4 linked regions of the Homo sapiens genome follow. The protein of the gene in region 1 purifies or fractionates together with the protein of each later gene. This does not show direct contact. Each region holds a gene or a part of one and is shown in the gene's direction. Other genes may lie near its edges.

Evidence for each region.
Region 2: the proteins of XAGE3 (region 1) and EHMT1 purify together in Homo sapiens (affinity purification with mass spectrometry; 2 studies listed by BioGRID and IntAct, with this or other methods). This does not show direct contact.
Region 3: the proteins of XAGE3 (region 1) and RNPEPL1 purify together in Homo sapiens (affinity purification with mass spectrometry; 2 studies listed by BioGRID and IntAct, with this or other methods). This does not show direct contact.
Region 4: the proteins of XAGE3 (region 1) and RSPRY1 purify together in Homo sapiens (affinity purification with mass spectrometry; 2 studies listed by BioGRID and IntAct, with this or other methods). This does not show direct contact.

The regions. Positions count from the first base shown.
Region 1 is NC_000023.11:52,865,070-52,872,468, reverse strand, and holds the start of XAGE3 (X antigen family member 3), read left to right. Parts: upstream 1-4,385; 5' UTR 4,386-4,463; exon of another isoform or gene 4,464-4,656; intron 4,657-5,167; exon of another isoform or gene 5,168-5,219; intron 5,220-5,313; exon of another isoform or gene 5,314-5,327; 5' UTR 5,328-5,335; coding exon 5,336-5,416; intron 5,417-5,930; coding exon 5,931-6,036; intron 6,037-7,399.
Region 2 is NC_000009.12:137,831,988-137,836,654, forward strand, and holds the end of EHMT1 (histone-lysine N-methyltransferase EHMT1), read left to right. Parts: intron 1-2,361; coding exon 2,362-2,537; intron 2,538-2,785; coding exon 2,786-2,966; 3' UTR 2,967-4,140; downstream 4,141-4,667. UniProt on the Homo sapiens protein: Histone methyltransferase that specifically mono- and dimethylates 'Lys-9' of histone H3 (H3K9me1 and H3K9me2, respectively) in euchromatin.
Region 3 is NC_000002.12:240,564,556-240,571,505, forward strand, and holds the start of RNPEPL1 (aminopeptidase RNPEPL1), read left to right. Parts: upstream 1-3,928; 5' UTR 3,929-4,031; coding exon 4,032-4,559; intron 4,560-6,950. UniProt on the Homo sapiens protein: Broad specificity aminopeptidase which preferentially hydrolyzes an N-terminal methionine, citrulline or glutamine.
Region 4 is NC_000016.10:57,238,285-57,240,969, forward strand, and holds the end of RSPRY1 (RING finger and SPRY domain-containing protein 1 isoform 1 precursor), read left to right. Parts: intron 1-594; coding exon 595-691; 3' UTR 692-2,185; downstream 2,186-2,685.

The DNA.
Region 1 (7,399 bases):
AACAGTTTCGGAGGAGTAAACCACTCTTATCAGATGGAGAATGGTGGGAAACCTCCTGAAATCAAGTTCAGAGATGCCAGGCAAGGGCCAGTCTTGCAAGCTGGCCTTTCTAAGGATAGTAGTTTCAGACCTGCTATATTACCTCTTTTTTGCACAGAACTCAACTACAAAGCTTTAAAATGCATAATCAAATCAGACAGAACCAATGGAAAAAAGTCAGCAACATATAGATGAACTGAATGGCACCATGGACTAATTGGATCTAAGTGACATGTAAAGAAAGCTCCTCATAACGACAGCAGACCGTGTATTCCCTCATGGGTGGTTTTGAGGGGTTCATGGCTCCAGTGGATGAAGTACCTGCCGACATGGTGGAAACAGCAAGAGAACAAGGGTGGAGCGTGAAGAGGTGACTCAACTGCTGCCATCTCATGATAAAACTTTAACCTGTAAGGAGTTGCTTCTTATGGATGAATAAAGAGAGTAGTTTCTTGCAATGAAATCTACTCCCGGTGAAGATGCTGTGAACACTGTGGAAATGACAGCAAAGGATGAGTTGATTAGGTAATGGCAGGATTTGAGAGATCTGACTCCAATTTATAAAGGAGTTCTACTGTAGGTAAAATGCTATCAAGCAGCATTGCCTGTTATGGAGAAATCTTTCGTGAAAGGAAGAGTACATCAATGGAGCAAATTTCACTGTTGTCTTACTTTAAGAAATTGCCACAGCCCTCCATGTAGTATTAGCTTGTTAAAAAGTAAATAAAAAAAGAAAATAAATTGCCACAGCCACCCAACTTTCAGCAACCAGCACCCTGATCAGTCAGCAGCCATGTACATCCAGGCAAGACTCTCTACCAGCCCAAAAGTTACAACGCACTGAAGGCTCAGATGATCTTTAGCATCTTTTAGCAATACAGTATTTTCCAATTAAGTTATGTACATTTTTTGACATAATACTATTGCACAGTTAACAGATTGTAGTGTAGTATAAACATCACTTTTATTTTATTTTATTATCATTTTTAAAATTTTTTATTTCAATAGGTTTTTGGGGGAACAGGTGGTATTTGGTTACATGAGTAAGTTCTTTAGTGGTGATCTGTGAGATTTTGATGCACCCATCACCTGAGCAGTATATACTGAAACCAATTTGTAGTCTTTCATCCCTCACCCCCCTCCCACCCTTTCCCCTGAGTCCTCAAAGTCCATTGTATCATTCTTATGCCTTTGCATCCACATAGCTTAGTTCCCACTTATGAGTGAGAACATACTATAAACATCACTCTTATATGCACTAGGAAATAAAAAAATGTGTGAGACTTGCTTTATTGTGGTGTTCTGGAACAGTACATGCAATATCTATGATTTATGCCTGCATAAATTTCTGAAGGGGACATGATTTAATATGTAAAAGTCCACCATCTGGCACCTCAAATTCATGTTCTCTCACATCTAAAATACATTCATCTCATCTCAACATCCTCAAAACTCTTAATTCTTTTCAGCATCAACTCTAAATCCCAAATCTCATTCAAATGTCATCAAAATCAGGAAAGGGTGAGAGTCAGAGTATGTTGTATTCTGGGGCAAAATTATTTTCATCTGTGAACTTGTGAAACCAGACAAGATGTTATCTGCTTCCAAAACAGCATGAAGGTGCAGGCATAGTAGAAACATTCCTATTCCAAAATGGAGAAGATGGAAGGAGAAAAGGAGTCATGGGGTCCAAGCAAGGTTTCAGACTTTAAGAGATTTTAAGGCTTCAGAATGGTCCTCTTTGGCTTGATGATGTGTCCTCTGGGCCTAGTAGGGTGGCAGCTCTGCCCTCTTGGCCCTGAATGTTAGCCCTGCTCCCTCACCCCTGGGCAGAAGCCCTGTTTTCTGAAATTGAGGAGGTGGCTCTGCCATCTGGAGCTCAGGAAGAGGCGTCTGGATTCCTGTTCCCCAGGTCATTGCTGTCTGGGCCTATAGAGGCAGTGGCAGCTTGCCAGCCTCTGCATCTGTAGCTCTCCCCTCAAAGTCACTCTTCCTTTATTTTGTCCCATTTCTGTCCCTTTCATTTCAGGCTGGCTGTGCTTCTTTTGGTATAAAATCCTCAAAAACATGTTGGCCTCTGATGCAATTCATGGCATCCATGCCAACAGACCCTGAATCCTCCCTAGATCTTTCCTGGATAAATGCATCTCCTTCCCTGCATTCTGCTGAGATGGTTGACTGGATCCATGACTCACATAGCTCATATCCTTAGCAATCAGTTGTCCTGCTACACCCTTGGCCCTATTTCCAGAGCTTGCTATCTGGTTAGGCTGAGAATCTTCTAAATAATCAAGGGCTGATTCCTTTTTGCTCAGCAATTCTGTTGTTGTTTTATTTCTCCTCCCTTACATTTTGCAACCAACAGCGAGGAGAAACCAGGCCACAACTTCAATACTTTGCTTAGAAATGTTCTTAGCTACATATACAATTTCATCACTTACAAGTTCTACTCTGCATCTAAGAGAATGCATTCTAGCCAAATTCTCTGCTACTTTCTTACAGGGATTGTGTGTCCACATGTTTCCAACACCGTGTTCCCCATTCCTGTCTGAGAGCTCACCTTCAACATTCATATTTCTAGGAATATTCTGTTCATGATGATTGATGTATTCTCTAAGATGACAGAAACTTTCTCTATAGTTATATAAACACCCACACAATGCTAGAAACTCTCCTCCATTTGAATGACCTCCCATAATGATTCATTTAGAGGAGAGAAGCGATCTGCTGGGAACTCTTAGAGCTTCTAAAACCCAGTCTACCTGTGCTTGCCCTGGCATTCTCTGCCGCCCTTCTGCATACAATGCTCCTAACTAAAGCCAGCCCCTCACCTCAGCTCAGGATCCCATGCCTCCCACCTTTTCAGGAGCTTTGCTCCTGCAATGATCATTCCTCTCTCCTGAACCACCAACTCTTCCCTCTAAATGGGATCATTCTCCAAGCTAAGGGGGGAACTCCCCTTCTTCCCCCATGTCCTCCTATAGCTACTAACACATTTATCTGCTGCCTTTCAAAGCGAAACTGCATGAACTTATACAACCCACTTCATTGGAGTCATTTTTTCAAAATTATATGGAAAGGAAAATGAACGAGAAAAACCAAAACGATTCTGAACTATAACTTTGGGGAAATCACACTACCTAATTTCAAGAGTCATGTTAATTCTATAGTAATCCAGGGAATGTGGTACTGGGGAAAAATCAACAGATCAGAATGGAGTCCAGCAATAGGTTCACAGACATGATAAACTCATTTTCAAAAAAGGTGCAAAGGCAATGGAGAAATATTATCTTCTTGAGAAATTGTGTTGTTTTCTCCCTTGCTTCTTGGCCACGACATTCATTGTTCTTTACTCCCCTGGGTCCGTTCCCCGTGTTTCTCCTTTGCAGTTCAACTGCTCTTCTGTTTAACTGTCTGTCTGCCCCACCACAGTGTGGTAGCCTCCATGGGACATACCACGTGTGGTTCCTTGGTCTTCACATTTCCAGCATCCCAGATATTTCCTGCAACATGGCAGACACCCATGCATATATAAATGAGAAAGAAGTATGTATGAATATATATAATAAAATAATTTATTTCTGTCACAAAAGGTCTGAGACACATCCTCCACTCATGGTGACATGGGACTGTCCCCAGTGTTTCTGGATGCATGAGAATGGTAGGGCAAGAGAGAGAACGAAGCCTCTTAGTCCCTTTCCTTCTACTACAAACACCTTAGGGATGCGAGCCTGGGGAGAGAGGGAAAACCCCGGGTGGCCTTGCATGTGCCTGACTCAGTGTGCACGTCCCTTGCTGCCCAAGTCCCTTGTCCATGTGCCTTGCTGTCCGCCTTCTGTCCCTGCAGAGCTGTGCAAGGAGACATCATGACTTCCTTCTGTGCTGCTGACTAGGAGTCAGCCAGTAAGTCCGAAGATCAGTCTTCCCAGAGTTGAAGTGGGAGAGACTGTGAGGAGGAGCCCGCGGCGCGGTCTATGGCCTCCGACGGGGAGGTCCTTGAGGTTCCTGTCCTTCTCCTAACAGGTGGTGACACAGCCATGGCCTTGCTGTCGTGGGGGTCCCAGACAGGGGAGGAAGGAGGGCCATAGAGGGGAGGAGGACCTAGTGAACATGGAGTGAGTTTTGAAGGGGGAAACTATTTGTGGTATTTGAGTCCCGGAGGCATATGAAACCGCCCACAGAAGACACATTCCGAAGTCTTCAGTGGGAACCTGGGAGAGGGTAGAGAACTGCGCGGCGCGGCATGGGGTGGGGCTAGGAGAGGCGCCACAGCCCACTAGGCAGGCACCGACCTCACTGCGCATGTCCACTGGGTGTCTTCCCCTCGGCCCCTTTTCCCACGTGGTGAATGCCCTGGAGTTGTGAGGGTGTGAGGGTCGCGTTCCTGCTGTCTGGACTTTTTCTGTCCCACTGAGACGCAGCTGGTAGGTCCGCAGGCCAGTCCTCCCAAGGGTTGAAGTGTGAGTGCGTGTGAGGAGGAGCCAGTGGCTGTCCGGAGCGTGGGAAAGCATAGCCCGTGGCCTCAGAGGCCGAAGGGTCTCAAGGTGATCGTCCTTCTCCTCGTGAGGTGGCACTGCCATGGGCCTTGTTGTGGTGAAGTCAGAATGAGGGAAGAAGGTGGGCCGCGTAGTTGAGAGGGGTCAGGTGAAAATGGGGCGAGTGCTGGGGGTGCTGGGGCAGGTATCCGAGTCCCTGGAACCCTCGACCGAGGACGGATTCCAGACTCCTCCGTGTCGACCCGGGAAGGAGCAGGGTGGGCATTAAGGAAGGGAACTGGGAACGCTGCGGGTTGGTGACTGTGGCCCTGAGGTCTGTAAAGCGCCTGGCAGAGGTGTACAGTGAGGAGGGCCCAGAGCTGTGTGGCAACTTCTCAACTCCACTGTGGAGGTTTGAATGGGCGGGGCTCTGCATTCCAACAAAACTTGATTTTAGGGGGGAAATGGGCCCAGCAAATGGGTGTGTGACAAAAGCCGTGGTCACTGCAGTTTTAATTCTCTGGCTGTATTTTCCCAAATGTCTCCACGGAGGAGAGTTCAGTTGTGAAACCAAACCTCATCGGAAATATCCTGTCTTTTGCCAGGAGCCTTAAGAAATTGCTCAGCTAGCTTGACCAACTTAATGGCTTCCCAAGCATTCAGAAGGCACACATACTTACACTTGCCCTGAGACTTAGTTCGAAAGTATTTACAAACTTTTAAAAAATGACAAGTTAATATTTGGTCATGGAAGTGGTCAAATATAGCTGTCTTTTCAAGTGCATTTACCAATTCACAGTATTCTGTTTGCAGTGTGAAATATGATTTGGCGAGGAAGATCAACATATAGGCCTAGGCCGAGGAGAAGTGTACCACCTCCTGAGCTGATTGGGCCTATGCTGGTGAGTGCCTTAACCTTTGATGTTTTCTATTAGCAGAAAGTTATTTTTGTAACTTGTTGTTGTTGCAAAACTATGTTTTGTAATTGTTGTTGAACCAGTATAGATATACCAATAAAGGTCTCCCATGCTGAGAAAAATAATCATGGCATCTCATGAAGGAAAGACTAGTCCAAGAGGATTAAGTTCTTCTGTTGTCTGGATGGATGATCTTGTGTTCCCCAGATTTTGCCCATGATTTCCTTCTCATGCTTATTTGCAAAAGATTACACACATTCATCCCAGCTTAGATTAAAACAGCTTCCAAAGCCCTTGAGGGCAACTGTCTTAGAGTAACCTCTCTGTGGGAAGAGTAACTTTATGAAAAATAAGTATGTGGAATCGTGTTGGAGAAATGTCTTTAGACTTATGATCAGAAATATCTATGTATTCTGTATATTTGTATTATTGAAATGTATCGATAACAAAACTTTTTATCTGCACACACACACACACACACACACACCCCTGGTTCCAGGAGCCCGGTGATGAGGAGCCTCAGCAAGAGGAACCACCAACTGAAAGTCGGGATCCTGCACCTGGTCAGGAGAGAGAAGAAGATCAGGGTGCAGCTGAGACTCAAGGTGCTGGGAAGGGAAAGAAAGAATGTCTATGGGGAGGGGAGGAGGCCTATGTGTGCATCATGCCTTATGCCATGACCAGTAACAGGAGGAAAGAAAACATTAGGAAAGGATCTCAAACATTTGCTGAGAGTTGGCTGGAAAAGTGAAGAGTATAGTTTGCAGCTTCATGGATATAATGAATCTTCTCTTACCTTTGAAATATATTTCGTATGCTTGAAAATACAGTCCTTGCTAAATCAGATGAAACTGTTTAATTTGATGTACAAAAATATACATTATTTCACTAGTTTACTTTGATCTTCTTAGAATGTTGTTGTCTGATCTTCTCAGCCAAGGTGTCCACAGTATTGTATGCACCCTTTAATAGCATGTAGAATGCCAAGTCACCCTACCTGAATACACTGAATAAAGCCCATTTGCATAAGGATGTTAGCCCCATTTTATAAATAAGAAAACTGAGGCTCTGAAATGGAGGCTTACCAAGAACAGTTGAGTCATGGAGAAGGAATTCATATTTCATTCCAAGGTTTGTGTTCTCCCTACCATTCACATTAGAAAACGTGAATGATTTTGCTTGAAATGTTAATACTCAAATGTGTCTGTACTGTAAGTACTTCAGTATTGGCTCAGGACAAAACAAAGTTCAGTGAAGCAGGATAGCAACGCCAGAAAAGAGCTCAATGAATGACAGCCACTCTTTCCTTTGCTTTGTATTTTTGAAAGTATGTTTGGTAAAATCTGGATAATTCAGGACATTGGCATACAGGTAGCTATATTAGTATGATTTTAAGGGGCTTTTAAAGAGTTGTTTATATACTTTTATAATTAGAAAACTCGAAGTACGATAAGATTATCATGAAACAGAAATTATTTCCTCAACAGAGAGCATTTTGAAGTTAAACATTGACAGAATTTGGGTCATGGGTTACTTTAGCAATTCACTGTTAAGGGGTTTCCAGAATATGACTGTCAACAATGCCCATTAATTTTTTTTTCACTCAAGTTTCTGTACTCTTGTGGAAGACAGCGATTTTGCTGTTATATTCGGTATTTTTTTGTGAATGGGATTCATTTATGGAAAGTTACATATAGGGCCTTTGGACCTAAGTTTGTTTAATTTTAACCAAAAAATTTTCAAGTTACCTCAACAGGTGATGAGTGTCAGGACTGTAAGATTTGTCATAGGCTCACCAATATATTCATCTAATCTTTCAGAAAATTACATTTAAGTTATTATTAAAATGCTATCCATTGGGCAGTCTTTAGGTTTCCTAGATAGCTGACACTCACTGTTTATAGTACACAATGGTAAAGTATAGGAAATGTAAGTGTGGTCTGATTTTTCCTCAGATTGTCATTTAAG
Region 2 (4,667 bases), on another chromosome or scaffold:
CCCTCCACAGGCTCCGCCTCCTACGTGGCCGCTGCACTTCGCCCCAGTCCTAGGATTGGCTGGGCTCCCTCCACAGGCTCCGCCTCCTACGTGGCCGCTGCACTTCGCCCCAGTCCTAGGATTGGCTGGGCTCCCTCCGCAGAACCCCCCAACCCCACGTGGCCCCTGTGCCTTCCCTCCAGTCCTAGGATTGGCCAGGCTCCCTCCACAGGCCCCACCTCCTACATGGCCTGTGTGCCTTCATTCCAGTCCTAGGATTGGCTGGGCTCCCTCCTCAGGCCCCGCTTCCCACGTGGCCTCTGCACCTCGCTCCCGTCCTAGAATTGGCTGGGCTCCCTCCACAGGCCCCGCCTTCCACGTGGCCTCTGCACCTCGCTCCCGTCCTAGAATTGGCTGGGCTCCCTCCACAGGCCCCGCCTCCCACGTGGCCACTGCACTTTGCTCCCATCCTAGGATTGGCTGGTCTCCCTCAGGCCCCGCCTCCCACGCGGCCTCTGCACCTCGCTCCAGTCCTAGGATTGGCTGGGCTCCCTCCGCAGGCCCTCCCCCCACCCACCCATGTGGCCCCTGTGCCTTCTCTCCAGTCCTAGGATTGGCTGGGCTCTCTCCGCAGGCCCCGCCTCCCACGTTGCCTATCTGCCTTACTCCAGCCGTCCTTCTCTGGACTGTTGTCTTTATCTGGTTCTGGTCGGGCAGAGATTTGTGTCACAGACTTTGACACCCCACCCATCTTAGAAGCTCGGAGCAGCGCTGTGTGCTCTGCCAGACGAGCTGCCCCTGGTGAAAGCTGGGCCTGGCCCCTCCAGTCGGAAGCCCCTCACTCTCCATTTTGCTGCTTATCAAGACCTTCGTGTGTGCGCCGTTGCTAGTTCCGGAATTGCATTCTGCACGAGGAGGGGTCGCCTATAGATTCTTAGTCCATCAGACCCCGAAGCAGAGGCCAAAGTCCACGCCAGGTGAGCCACTCTGAACTCTGTTTCTTTGGGGTAAACCAGGAGGCAGCTTCCCGCGCCTTTGGCTTTGGGGGCTGTGGCTGGTCCTGTCCTGCGGCCGTGCTCGCCTGGTTTACTGTCTTGTCACTGCCCGCGCCGTGAAGGTTGACGGAGAGCTGCTCTCGTCCACGCCTTTACCCGCTTGTTGGTTTGGGTTTTAACCTCTTGACCTCTGAGCGTCCCTGGCTCTCTGGTTAATGTTCATGCTGGGGCAGGTTGTGGACCAGGTGTCTCTGCCGGCAGGCCCCGCCCTCTCGGAACTCGGTCCTGGAAAGCCCCAGGTGCCTCCTTCCCCGTCTGCCTGGCTGTCGTCTGTGGTGTTGCCTCTTCCCGTCGCTGGGTAACAAACCACGCCACCCACCCGCAGCTCGCCATGGCGGCCACCCACTCGGCCCAGTGTGCGCAGCAGGGGTTGGGCGTGCCGGGCCTCGGGCTGCACAGGCAGGGTGCTGCTGAGCCCAGGTCCCTGTGGTTGCGTGGGCAGCGTCTAGGTTCCTTGCTAGCTGCCGGCCGGGACCACCTACCTTACTCCCACGCAGCTCCTCCATCCAGGCCCCAGCAGCTCCAAGCCCTGGGTCTCCAGAGAGAATTGCTTTTAAAGGGGTTGCGTGGTTAGGTCAGGCCCACCCACCTCGTCCCCCTCTCTATGGTCAATTCAGAATCCATCATCACAGGCCAGTGCCAGGGGCCAGGGCCCAGGGCCATGTGGCCACCCGGAATCCTGGGCTCCTCTCCAAGGCACCAGGGTGAGGAGGACGCCTCAGTCTCTTCGGCCTCGTGTTCCACAGTCACATCAGCACCCGGAAGGGCTGCAGCAGAAGTCGTTTTCTGTGGGCAGCCTCCGCCTGACGGTCCTCCCTGGTGCCATTCGCCACTGAGTCTTCCCAGACCCTCTGGGGACTGCTCCGCCTCCTCGTCACCAAGACAGTGTGTCCCGGATGCCAGCTCCATCCCTCCCGACCCCCTCAGCCCCTGCCACTGCCTCACGGGGCTCTTGCAGCCCCGGCCTCCTTTCTCCTATTGGTGCCAGACAGCCCCATGGGTCCTCGGGTGGGATGGCGCTGTCCACATTCCACCGCGCTGGAAGCCCCATGGGGACGCCGTCAAGGGAACGGCCCGCACCACCCCCACCCCACCACAGACGGAGGCCCAGCGAGGACGGCAGGGTGCGGGGTGGGTGGCCACACAGCGAGGAGAAGGCTGGCGGAGGCTCCGCACCGCCGCCACAGGTCACTGGAGAAGGCCCCTCCTGCATGGCGGGCCTGCGCCCAACTGCAGGCTCCGGGACTGCCATGCATGGCCGTACCCGGCGAGGCCGGCGTGTCGGGGCCTTGCTAACTGCAGCCCGTGCCGGCTTCTCGCCCTGCAGGACGGGGAGGTTTACTGCATCGACGCGCGGTTCTACGGGAACGTCAGCCGGTTCATCAACCACCACTGCGAGCCCAACCTGGTGCCCGTGCGCGTGTTCATGGCCCACCAGGACCTGCGGTTCCCCCGGATCGCCTTCTTCAGCACCCGCCTGATCGAGGCCGGCGAGCAGCTCGGGTACGCACCGCCCCGGCCCCTGGCCATCTCCGCTGCCGGCGGGACGGTTTTAGGAACGGGGCTCGCATTGCTTTCCTGGGCTTGTCTCGGGTTTATGCTAGTGGTTTTCCTGTAGTTCTAAAAACTGCGACCTGGGATGCGGCACGGCAGATCGGGGTGAGGAAGCTTTGGCCTTGCCTTAATTTATCTGGCTTGTGGGAGGTGCCGGTGGGATTCGACTTGGAGCCTTGGTTCTGTTCCCTCCCCAGGTTTGACTATGGAGAGCGCTTCTGGGACATCAAAGGCAAGCTCTTCAGCTGCCGCTGCGGCTCCCCCAAGTGCCGGCACTCGAGCGCGGCCCTGGCCCAGCGTCAGGCCAGCGCGGCCCAGGAGGCCCAGGAGGACGGCTTGCCCGACACCAGCTCCGCGGCTGCCGCCGACCCCCTATGAGACGCCGCCGGCCAGCGGGGCGCTCGGGAGCCAGGGACCGCCGCGTCGCCGATTAGAGGACGAGGAGGAGAGATTCCGCACGCAACCGAAAGGGTCCTTCGGGGCTGCGCCGCCGGCTTCCTGGAGGGGTCGGAGGTGAGGCTGCAGCCCCTGCGGGCGGGTGTGGATGCCTCCCAGCCACCTTCCCAGACCTGCGGCCTCACCGCGGGCCCAGTGCCCAGGCTGGAGCGCACACTTTGGTCCGCGCGCCAGAGACGCTGGGAGTCCGCACTGGCATCACCTTCTGAGTTTCTGATGCTGATTTGTCGTTGCGAAGTTTCTCGTTTCTTCCTCTGACCTCCGAGGTCCCCGCTGCACCACGGGGTTGCTCTGTTCTCCTGTCCGGCCCAGACTCTTCTGTGTGGCGCCGCCGAAGCCACCGTTAGCGCGAGCTGCTCCGTTCGCCCTGCCCACGGCCTGCGTGGCTGGGGCCGAGTCCCAGGGGCCGCACGGAGGGCACAGTCTCCTGTCAGGCTCGGAGAGGTCAGGAGACCGACCCCACCACTAACTTTGGAGAAAATGTGGGTTTGCTTTTTAAAGGAATCCTATATCTAGTCCTATATATCAAACCTCTAACTGACGTTTCTTTTCGAGGAAGTGGCTTGGTGGGTGCAGCCCCCGCCGGTTCCGTTGACGCTGGCACCTTCTGTTGATTTTTTAAGCCACATGCTATGATGAATAAACTGATTTATTTTCTACCATTACTGAACATTAGGACAAACACAAAATAAAAAACAAAACACAGACAACGGTGCTGATTCTGGTGTGGTTTCTACTCACCACGTGAAATAAACTATCAACTGTATAAAGAGAACAAAGTGATTTTAGAATAAAATGCAGGAAAAACTTTTTTAAAGATGTTAGTCTTGTAGCGTGAATAAATTTGCCATCACCTTTTGTGTGGTGGCCTGGCAGGTCATATACTTTTTTTTGGCATATACCTTTTTAAAGACTGTAATTAGTGCAGTAACAGTGGGGTTTTTTTTGTGCAACTCTTCTAAAAACATTCATAATGCAGTCATGTTTATTTTTTTCTGTTAAAATGTTTTTGACAGTTTTAAGAGCAGTCTTTTGGCTCTGACCATTTCTTGTTCTGTTTCCAATGAAATCAATAAAAAAAAAGAAGTACTTTAAATGGGGTTTTTATTATGACACCATATTTCAGGGTCTCTGCAGAACTTGCAGGTCCCCCTGGACCCGGCCCAGCTCTCTGTCCCCTGTCCAAGGAAGTACAGCTTCCTTTTCACCCCAGATCTGTCCCCGAAGAGGGGACGTTCCAGGCAGAGGTTAGGGGAGCCTGTGCATTTGCGCACGTGTCGAATGAGTCTGTGTGTGTCCACGAATGCATCGTGCACGTGGTGCGAATGCGGGCACACTGGTGTGTGTGTGTGTGTGTGTGTGTTTGCATGTCTGTGTCTAGCGCCAGGTGCCCAGCTCTGGGCGTCATTCTGGAAGCCGACAGGGCACATCAGGTGAGTCCCACAACCAGAGGCAGAGCTGCACTTGAACAGCGAGGCCGGACAAGGGAGAGCCAGAGCCCGTCCTACTTCCTGCCAGCCATGACCCCCACTCCTCTACGGGGACCCCTAGACCCAAAGCCTCCAGCCTGCTATGTTCTCCATGCTGACTGGCCTCACTCACCACAGGAGGGCTTTTCGTGTA
Region 3 (6,950 bases), on another chromosome or scaffold:
CCACTTAAGGAACTGGGCAGAAAGAAACTGAATGCAGGGAGAAGAAGGCTGGGGAGCCAAGGACAGGAGAGGAGACATAGGGGAGTCACAGGGACCTGCCACCCAGATCCCCACTGCCTGATGTCCTGGCTGTGGAGGGCACCTGGAGCTGCCAGCAGAGCCTCCTGCCCACCAGCTGCTGAAGCCACAGTACATCTCCTTCCTCCCACCTCCCAGACCTCTCACTGGTCTCATCTGGGCACCGAACATGGGAAGCCCCTCCTGTGACAGGCAGGGGAGAAGGAGGCTGTGCTGACAGACGGCCTGGTGAGGGAACCCGGGAGGCCTCCAGCATCTGCACCCCTCTCCTACTTTGATCTCTGTTTCACCAACATTGCACCCCAACTTAAGGTCACATAGCTACTGTCAAGCCAACAAGGTGCTGCCTCTCCCGCCGTGTGAGGGTGGAACCCCATAAGCCACCACTGGAGGCATCCAAGCATGTTGATTCCTTCTCTAGTTCAGACACCACCTCTCCTGGACATCCTGTGGCCTAAAGACTATCCTAGAATCAACACTCCTTAAATAGGAGTGGGGAAAGAAAAGGAAAATGTGTGTAATACATGTGAATCACAGATAACGTAGTCATTGGTTAATATATACAACTACGCGTATTTACATTCTGTATGCGTCAATGAGTAAAATACTGTGGTTGGTGCTTATCTGCCTTTTCCAATACTCGTTCCATGTTCTACCCTCAGCCAGTGCCTAAGCTGCTTATGGCCTTCACCTGGTGGCATGACTCGATCCTTCATTTTTAAGGCCCCAGGCCCTGCATGGCTGCCCACACAGGTGCTGTGGCCTCCGTTACCTGTACTGCACCACCAGAGAGAAGTAGGAGGCACCACTCTTCCTGGCCCCCAAGCCTCACAAAGCCTCATGCCCACCTGCCAGAGCCAGCCCTGTGTTGTCTCATGCTTCCGTGGCTGGGCCGTGTCTGAGCCACCCTCCCAGTGAGACCCGATTGTGTTCCTAAGCAAAAGCATCCCACCTGGGGACCGAACATCTCTGATGCGGCAGAGCCCAAAGCTGGGGGGATGGGAAGCACGGGTTTTGTCAGCCAAGCGTGGGGGTGGTAGTGAGAAGGGCCTTCTCCCTCCCCACGCCTTGTGTACCTGGGCCTCAAGCATAGGCCACACCTTGTTGGTCGCTGCCCCTCTATGCCGTGTCACCAGCCGGCACCACCCATCGCTGTGGACCGCGGCCCCCATCACAAGCTGGTGCCCAGGGCAGTCCCCATCTCTGTGGAGGGCTTGCCTGCCGCTGGCCTCTCTAGATAAGCTCCTCATGACTCATGCAACCTTTTCATCAACCCGGAAGGAAGCAGCCGCCGGTCGCCACTAGTGGGTGAGGAACAGTGGCTTGGAGAGGAGGGAGGACCTGGGTCTGCGGTTTCCCCCGCGGCTCAGCCCTGCTCACAACACCCTGATGAAAACCTCGGCTGCCCTTGCCTCAGGGCAGGGCACACCCTTTACCTGCTGACCTGGCCCTGGTGACAAGGGGACAAGGGCAGCAGGGCCCCGGCCAGGTTGAAGGACACCTGTGGGTCACATCAGACCTTTTTAGCCCACCAGCTCCATCTGAGAACTGGTAGCTCCCTGGTCCTCTGTCGGGGTTGGGCGCGGCCCTGTCTGAACACTGCTTCTTCCTGGAAGCTTTGCTGCCCTCCCCAGCCTGCTAAAACGCTCCATGCCCACACCCACCTCCTAGTGGGTGAAGCCAGGAACCCCTCCCTCGGGTGCATCAGGGGAAGGCTGGGGTGCAGATGCCGCGCAGCCACTTCACTGCGCTGATCACCAAAAAGCTGGAGTATGAAAACTCCTGTGGGAGAAAGCCAGGGCTGACAGTCGCGACGTCCAGGCTCCTCTGCCAGGGTTAGAGAAGTCAGAGGTGTCTGCCCAGGCCTGCATGCGGCGTAGCCTCCCGCCGCCAGGGGGCGTCAGGCCGGCGGGGGCGGGGCCTCCTCGGGCGGGGCGGGGCGGGGCGGGGCCGGCGCGAGAGGCTCCCGCGGCTCAGTTGCAGACCCCGCCCCCTCGGCTCAGCCGCGCCTCCCGCTCCATGGGGTGCAGTAGGGCAGCTCCTCACATACGTGCGCGGTGGGAGGCGCTCCCTTGGGCCCCCGGGGAGGAGGTGCCACAGCAACTCTGGACTCCTGTGTGCAGAACTGGCCGCGGAGAGGTGCCCAGGGCGAGACCCCAACCTCTGCTCCCTGAGCCCAATGCGGGGCTCTGGGTGGCAAGACCCCAAGCTCCCTGTGGTGACTTGCCCCCCGGACGGCCAGGCCCAGCTAGTGTGGCACCGCGTGTGCAGAACTGAGGTTCTTCCAGCCAGGAACATGGCCCGGTGGGCTCTGGAGAGCCCCGTAGAACTGGGGGTGCCATCGAAAACAGTCTGCCCTTGGCACTGCAGGGCCCCACCGGGCAGGGCGCTGGGGGCAGTGAGGAGGGTCCCATCTCAGCTGTCTTCCCTGTCAGCCTTGGATGCGAGGCTGATCCACACCTCTGAGTGACTGTGTAAGCCTAGGGGTTCCTGGTGAGTTTGGGATGGGTGCCCCAAGATCGTGGCCGTGTCCCTAAAGAGGGCACGTGGGGACCTGAGGTCCTACGGGAAAACTGAAATGATGCCTCAGTGCTCTGTCCCGCAAACGTGAACGCACACTCTCCCTCTCAGCCTTCCTTCCCGCCCCACGGAAGGAGGGTAGACACAGAGGGTTACACAACGAGGAGACTGAGTCCAGACACAGGAAACACTACTCAGGGCTGACGCTGAGTCGAGTGCGGTACCCGAGTCCAGCCCTGCACGGCCACACCTCAATGGAGCAGAAGAGAGAGGTGTCCTGGGTTCCTGGATAGTTCCCCAGCCCCAGAAGCCCCTTGTCCCTAGGAATTTGAATTCTTACTTGATGACAACAGCGACATCATGGTGGCCCCTGTTATTCCACAGCCTCAAAATTTAACCGCTGTGAGCTCACTAGCAGCTTCTGCCAGGCGAGCACCCCTTCCCTCGGGGCTCAGGCTCCTGGACAGGCTCAGCCTTGGGCAGCCTTCGCCAGGTCCACAGAGAATGGCGTTGGGAAGGGTGGACCTGGCGGATGGGGTGGGGACAGGCGGGCCAGACCCTCCTTCGTACCCCAGCACAGGGCTCCCAAATGAGAGGTCCCCAGCACTGCCCAGAGGAACTTCTGCGATTGTGGAAATGATTCCTGCCTGCTTTGTCCATTAGCCACTCCTCCCAGGAAGACACACACACTCACTCACTCCACCTGCCACGAAGGAACTGAACTTCTAACTGTATTTAATTCGCATCTAAATGGCCACACGTGGTTGGTGGCTGCTGTAGTTGACAGCGCTGCGTGAAGGCTCCGGCGCTTCTCGCACCGCAGGGCCCACAGCACAGACCACACCTGTAGACTTGGAGGAGTGGCAGGGGTGCCAGGAGAATCCTGCCCTGCCCGTAGCCCCGGATGAAAGGATGACATTGAGTTCGCGACGCTGCGCTCCTCGGGAACACGAACCACACCTGGAAGCAGCCTGCCCCTGTGGCCCCAAGGTTCCCGGGTCCCTTCAGCGGCTGCCCCAGGGGCCTGGCCGGCAGTGTCTGGGAGGGAGCAGCGATCCCGCCTCCTGGGATCTCCCGGGCGCCGCCCGGGGAGGAAGCGAGGGGCTGGGGGTGCTGCTCACCCGCTCCGCGCGCCTCGGCTCCCAACACAGCGCCCCGGCCCCGCGCCGCGCTCGATTCCCCGGCTCCCCGCGCCCCTGGCTCCTGGCCCTCCCCGCCCGGCGCCCCGGCCCCGCGCCCCGGCCCCGCGCACAGCGCCCCCGGCGGCGGCCGAGCGGAGCCCGAGCGGGGCGGCGCACGGCGCGGGGCCGGGCCGGGCGGCTCCCGGCGCGACTTCCTGTTGTGCCCGCGCCCCGCCGCCGCCGCCGCCCGGCGCCCCTCGCCCGCGGCCCGGCGCGGCCGCCGCCCATGGATTTCACCTAGTGCCGGCGGCCATGGCCGCGCAGTGCTGCTGCCGCCAGGCGCCCGGCGCCGAGGCCGCGCCCGTCCGCCCGCCGCCCGAGCCGCCGCCCGCCCTGGACGTGGCCTCGGCCTCCAGCGCGCAGCTCTTCCGCCTCCGCCACCTGCAGCTGGGCCTGGAGCTGCGGCCCGAGGCGCGCGAGTTGGCCGGCTGCCTGGTGCTCGAGCTGTGCGCGCTGCGGCCCGCGCCCCGCGCGCTCGTGCTCGACGCGCACCCGGCTCTGCGCCTGCACTCAGCCGCCTTCCGTCGCGCCCCCGCCGCCGCCGCCGAGACGCCCTGCGCCTTCGCCTTCTCCGCCCCCGGGCCGGGGCCCGCGCCGCCGCCCCCGCTGCCCGCCTTCCCCGAGGCGCCCGGCTCCGAGCCCGCCTGCTGTCCGCTGGCCTTCAGGGTGGACCCGTTCACCGACTACGGCTCCTCGCTCACCGTCACGCTGCCGCCCGAGCTGCAGGCGCACCAGCCCTTCCAGGTCATCCTGCGGTACACCTCGACCGACGCCCCCGCCGTGAGTCCGGGGCGGGCGCCGGGGCTGCGGGCCGGTCCGCAGGGCGCTGCTAGCGGCCTCTCGCCGCACGGCCAGGCTGAGGGACGCGAATCTGCGCCCTACAGGTGCCCCCCTCCCCCCACCCCGGTGATTCCCAGCTGTTGCCTGTGAGCCCTTAGGACCCTCGGATAGAAGCCGGAGTCCTGCGGGGACACGGGACAGCATGTCACTCCGGGAAGCCTCCCGTTCAGGTGTCTGGTCCCTGCCTGGGGACATGAGCAGCTTCTGTCACCCACCGAGGTGTACATCTGCAGGATCCTGGCACCAAGGGTTGGGCTGGAGTGTCAGCTGCGGAAGGGCCTCCATGTGACCAGTGCGTGCAGATGAGTCCAAGCCAGAGGCAGAGGAAAGGGCCATGGAGATTGTGATGCTCGGTTTGGGGCTTCCTTGGCCAGCACTGGTGGAGTGTTGAGACCAGTGGGCCCCGCGACCCCAACATAGACACACATAGGCTCTGCAGGGCTTGCACACTGGGTACCCACCACTCCAGAGACTCTGCAAGAAAGGCCAGGTGGCTGAGGCTGGCGCTGTGGCTGCAGCACCCCCTCCACCTCCACCAGTGGGGATGTGTACAGGATGGAGCAGGGCCTTTCCTGCCTACAGCATGGGGGTTCATACTGCATCCCTAGGTGGTATGGACGGCACACATGTGACACCCGACATATGCAAGACACACACAGCTGTGGAGGCGCTGGGAAGTCCAGCTGTCACTGGTCACGGCACATAAATGGACAGGGTGGTGGAGAGGTGGTCGAGAGGCTTCAGGCCACAAAGAGCCAAGGTGACATCTGGGCAGGAAGAACCCAGACCAGTGCACCCCTATGGGCTTCCTGTACATTTCCCAGGAGCCCTAAGCAGGACCTGCCACCTCACCTTTTTCCCAGAACCCCTGTGGGTGTGCAGGCCGCTGGCTAGCCGGCCCCGCCCCTGCTGTGGTATTCCAGGGCTCTGACCGGTGGCAAGTATGCCTCCCAGTATGACAGGTGAGAACTGAGGGATGGGCTTCTCCTTGGCCTTGATCCGTGTTTGGAGCCCACGTGTCTGGTCCGCCCAACACTGGCCTGCAGAGTGGCCGGACCAGGGCCCTCAGCAGGCTGCTGTGAACGGGGCCCAGTGAGCAAGGGTGGCCATTGTCTCTTGGCTTCCTATGGCCTACTGGGTGGCCCTTGGGTACTCTGGGCAGGGAGAGTGGCATAGTCCCCCAAGTCTGCGTGGTGTCAGGGTTGGCAGGCTGTGGACAGGGGGCCTAGCGTCACCTGGCCTGTGAGCCGCCCTACTTGCAGAAGGCAGAGTATTCGACTCTAACCTCAGGCATGCACCTTTGTATGTGAGCGCCATGGGGCTGGGGCCACACGTAGAGTCCCCTTCTCTTCCTGCATGTTCCAGGGACTCAGGCCCAAATCCCTAAGCCTGTCCCTGTGCCAGGGAGGATGCAGCGGAAGCTCCCTGGGAGGCCCTGCCAGTGGGCCCCAGGCCCCCAGAGGCTTTTTGGAGGTGCTGCAGATGCTTGGGCCCATTCCCGCACCCCCACCCCACCCCAGCAAGAACAGCGTTCTTCCTGCCCTGCAGCGTCTGGAGCCCTTCAGCCTTGTTCCTTTTCCACCAGCCCATCAGCACCTGTGCCCGGGTGCCCTGACGGGGATTGGTGCCCCATCTGTGGGGCAGGGCCTGTCCTGTCTGGGGGTCTGCCCCAGCCCCTCACTTCAGGGCAAGTGGGGAGCTGTGGGCCCTGCTGGTATCTGGGAAGACACCCAGGCTACTGAGGCTGTGGGGTGGACATGGGGCAGTAGGGAGAGGTGTGAGTGGGCAGAGCCTGAGAAGGGCCTCAGGAGGGTGAGGCAAGGCCACAGGAGAGGAGTAGTTGTGAGGGGGCCGTGCAGGCTGAAGGGTTGGGGAGACTCCTGCAGGGAGGTTCCTTCATACAGATTCCCAGGTCCCAGCCCCCCCCAAGGGGGAGGCTGCGTTTGTGAATGGCTCCCCAGGTGGGCCCTGAACACCCTGGCAGCCCAGGGCTCAGCAGGAATGGGAGACGCCTGTGCTACCTTGCTGCCCAGCAGGGCCAGGGCACCAACAGGAAGTTTGGAAGAGATCTGAGAATGCTGGCAGGGGTCTGGCCGGGACTGCGGGGGAGGCAGCCCTCCTGGTCTGGGATCCTCCAGGCCTCAGCTGTGGATTCCACTTGTCCAGTCTTAGAAGCATGTTGGGGGCACCTTCTACTCATGGTCATGGGAGGGCCTCTGCACGAAGAGCAATTCAGTTTGCCTTGACTATCTCATTCCGGCAGAGGGGAGGGTGGATACGACGTGCAGGGCTGACTTGGGACGAAGGTGATGTGGCTGTGGTTGGAAGAGG
Region 4 (2,685 bases), on another chromosome or scaffold:
AGAGCAACATGATTTTTTTCTGGAACTTGACATGCTGATTTAAAAGTTTAAGGCAAGAAAATTCTGAAAGTTAGGGAGATGACAACCATACCACATCTTAAAATACATTAAAATAAATGTTAATAGTTTGGTCCCATTACTATATGACAAGAATGGCAGAATAATGGAATACAATAAAAGCCCAGAAATAGAACTAACTAAAAATGAAAATTTACCATATGACAAAGGCATTGTGTCAAAACTGTGGTGAAAGATGGACTGTTTGGTAAATGATTCTGGGATAAATGGCTAGCTTTCTGGGGAGAAATATTATATCCCTACCTATAAGTGCACATCTGTAAGTATATGCTGTGCACATATAGAGTGTCTGAAAGAATGCATATGAACTTTTTACTTGTTCCACAGACTAAGACAATTGAGGATCAGAAATGTAAGATTTACTTTTTATTTACATATTCATTTTTTTTAAACCATGTATAATTAGTAACCCTTTCAATGAACAAACTTGTTAACATTTTTGATTTAGTTGGCAGGCAGTTGGAGTTTGACCTTTTGAAGCATTAACTTGACTGACTTTTCTGTGTTTCTCCCCAGTGACCTGTGCATGGATTGTGCCTTGCAGCTGGAGACCTGCCCATTGTGTCGTAAAGAAATAGTATCTAGAATCAGACAGATTTCTCATATTTCATGACACATGTGAAGAGGCATCGTGGACTTTTTTCTACTCAATTCCAGCCAATGTTGAAAAGAAAAAGAAAAAAAAAACTCTCTAATCAGTTGTACACACATTGAAACTTATAGCCATGGCCAGATTTTATGCTAAAAATGGTAGTTTGTCAAAGACAAAATTCTCTTAGAATCTAATCCAACTTGCCAGCCCTGAGAAAATCCCTTTTAAGGCCAAGGAAAGCTGAATGCTAGCAGCCAGGCCTGTGGTACTTCCATGAGAAACCATAGCAGACAATGCCCTCCCAAGTACTGAAATCACACTGGAATCCCCCTTGTTGGGTTCATTTGATTGTTTAACACAGGATGTGTTGTGTCATTCTGAAGTTTTTATTTGGGGCAGAAGTCTTTATGGAGATGTAAATGACAGCGTTTCTGGGTTATGCATAACTTCTCACTGGTCAGAGACACCGGTGTGTCAAGCATGGATATTGCATTGCAAGACTTGAATCTATAAAAATTAGAATCACACAGTCAGTACTACAAGCAAAACAGAGAACCTGAAAGAAGGTGCACAGACTGTAAGAAAAAACCCAAGTTTGTGATATTTCAGTGATTCCAAAGAACATTCTAGGTTTTTTGTTTGTTTTTTTGTTTTTTGGGTTTTTTTTTTTTACTGCAGAAAATTGGTGGTATTTTCACATTCATAGTGTTTCTATCCAATTTCAGTACCCACATTTAATGAGGAAAAAATGTTTTACCAATGAAGGAGGAATTCTTAAATTAGCTGTAATGTTAGGTTGGAGAAAATTTGGTATTTAGGGTATTTTCAAGGTACCATCAAATCAGATTTCTGTTTTTTTGTTAAAAAAAATTTTTTTAATCAGTATTGTTTTTACAAGTAATATACTTTGAAACTCTTGAACTAATAGTCTCAAAAACTCTAGAGGACAGTCTGAGAACACGTATTTCTATTGTTCTAAATAAATACATGTTTTTGAATAGTTCAATCATGAATTATTGACTATGTCTTCATCAAAAGTGTTAATCCCTCTCAGGGTCTCTGGTGAAGACCTTCAAGAGTTTGGTTTTTTCTCCCAGGAAATTGGAAGGTAGAATTGTAAATTCATAGAACTTCTTTTATAATGGTGTACCTCAGCAGCTGCCTTTCAATTTATGCCAAGTCCTTACAGAGTTTATACTTGAATAGTAAATATGTCTTCTGAGTTTTACAGTGTCTTAAACTCAATGCACATTTTTTTTTCTTCTTTTTCCACCCCTTCTTGTTTGTAGTTCATTATACCTGTCCTATTACAGAACTGATTTCCTTCCTGGCTGTACATGTTGGGGTGCTGGATTTTTTTCCGTGTCTTTAGTCTTCCATAAATCCACACACACACACACACACAAAAAATATATATATATATAAATATATATGTAGGATACATGTTCTCTTCTTTAGCTTGTGGTGAATACAGTAATTTGCATTGAAGAATAAAACATCTGTTGCCTTTTTTGACTAAGATTTCACAACTTTCATTGGTGTATACTGCTAAGGTTCCAAGACATTATACTCTCAGACTTTAAGGGCTACTTTTGGGAGTAGGAGAGAATCAAGTATTAGAATTAAGAATAAGGCCACTTACTCATCCAGCAGATTGTTATTGAGCACCTAATATGTGCTGGGCACTGTGCCTATGTGGCATACAAAATATGCTTGTAGAGCTTATGTCTAATAAGCTTGTCTAATTATTGTCTATTATTATGTCTAACAGTAATTTGGAAGTGGTCCAGCTGAGACTAAAGGTAGTCTGTACATTTAGTAGAGAGAGGGAAAAATAGATGGAATTAATAGATAATTTGCGAGGCAAAGGAATGCAGGAGCCTAACAGCTTTCTAAAAATCTACCCTTGAAGTTTGTTCCTAAGGTGGGGAGAAGACAATATATTTGTGTTTATTGTAACAGATTTTTAGTGGAAAAGAATAGGGTCCTAGAGAGAATGAGGGGGACCTAATTTA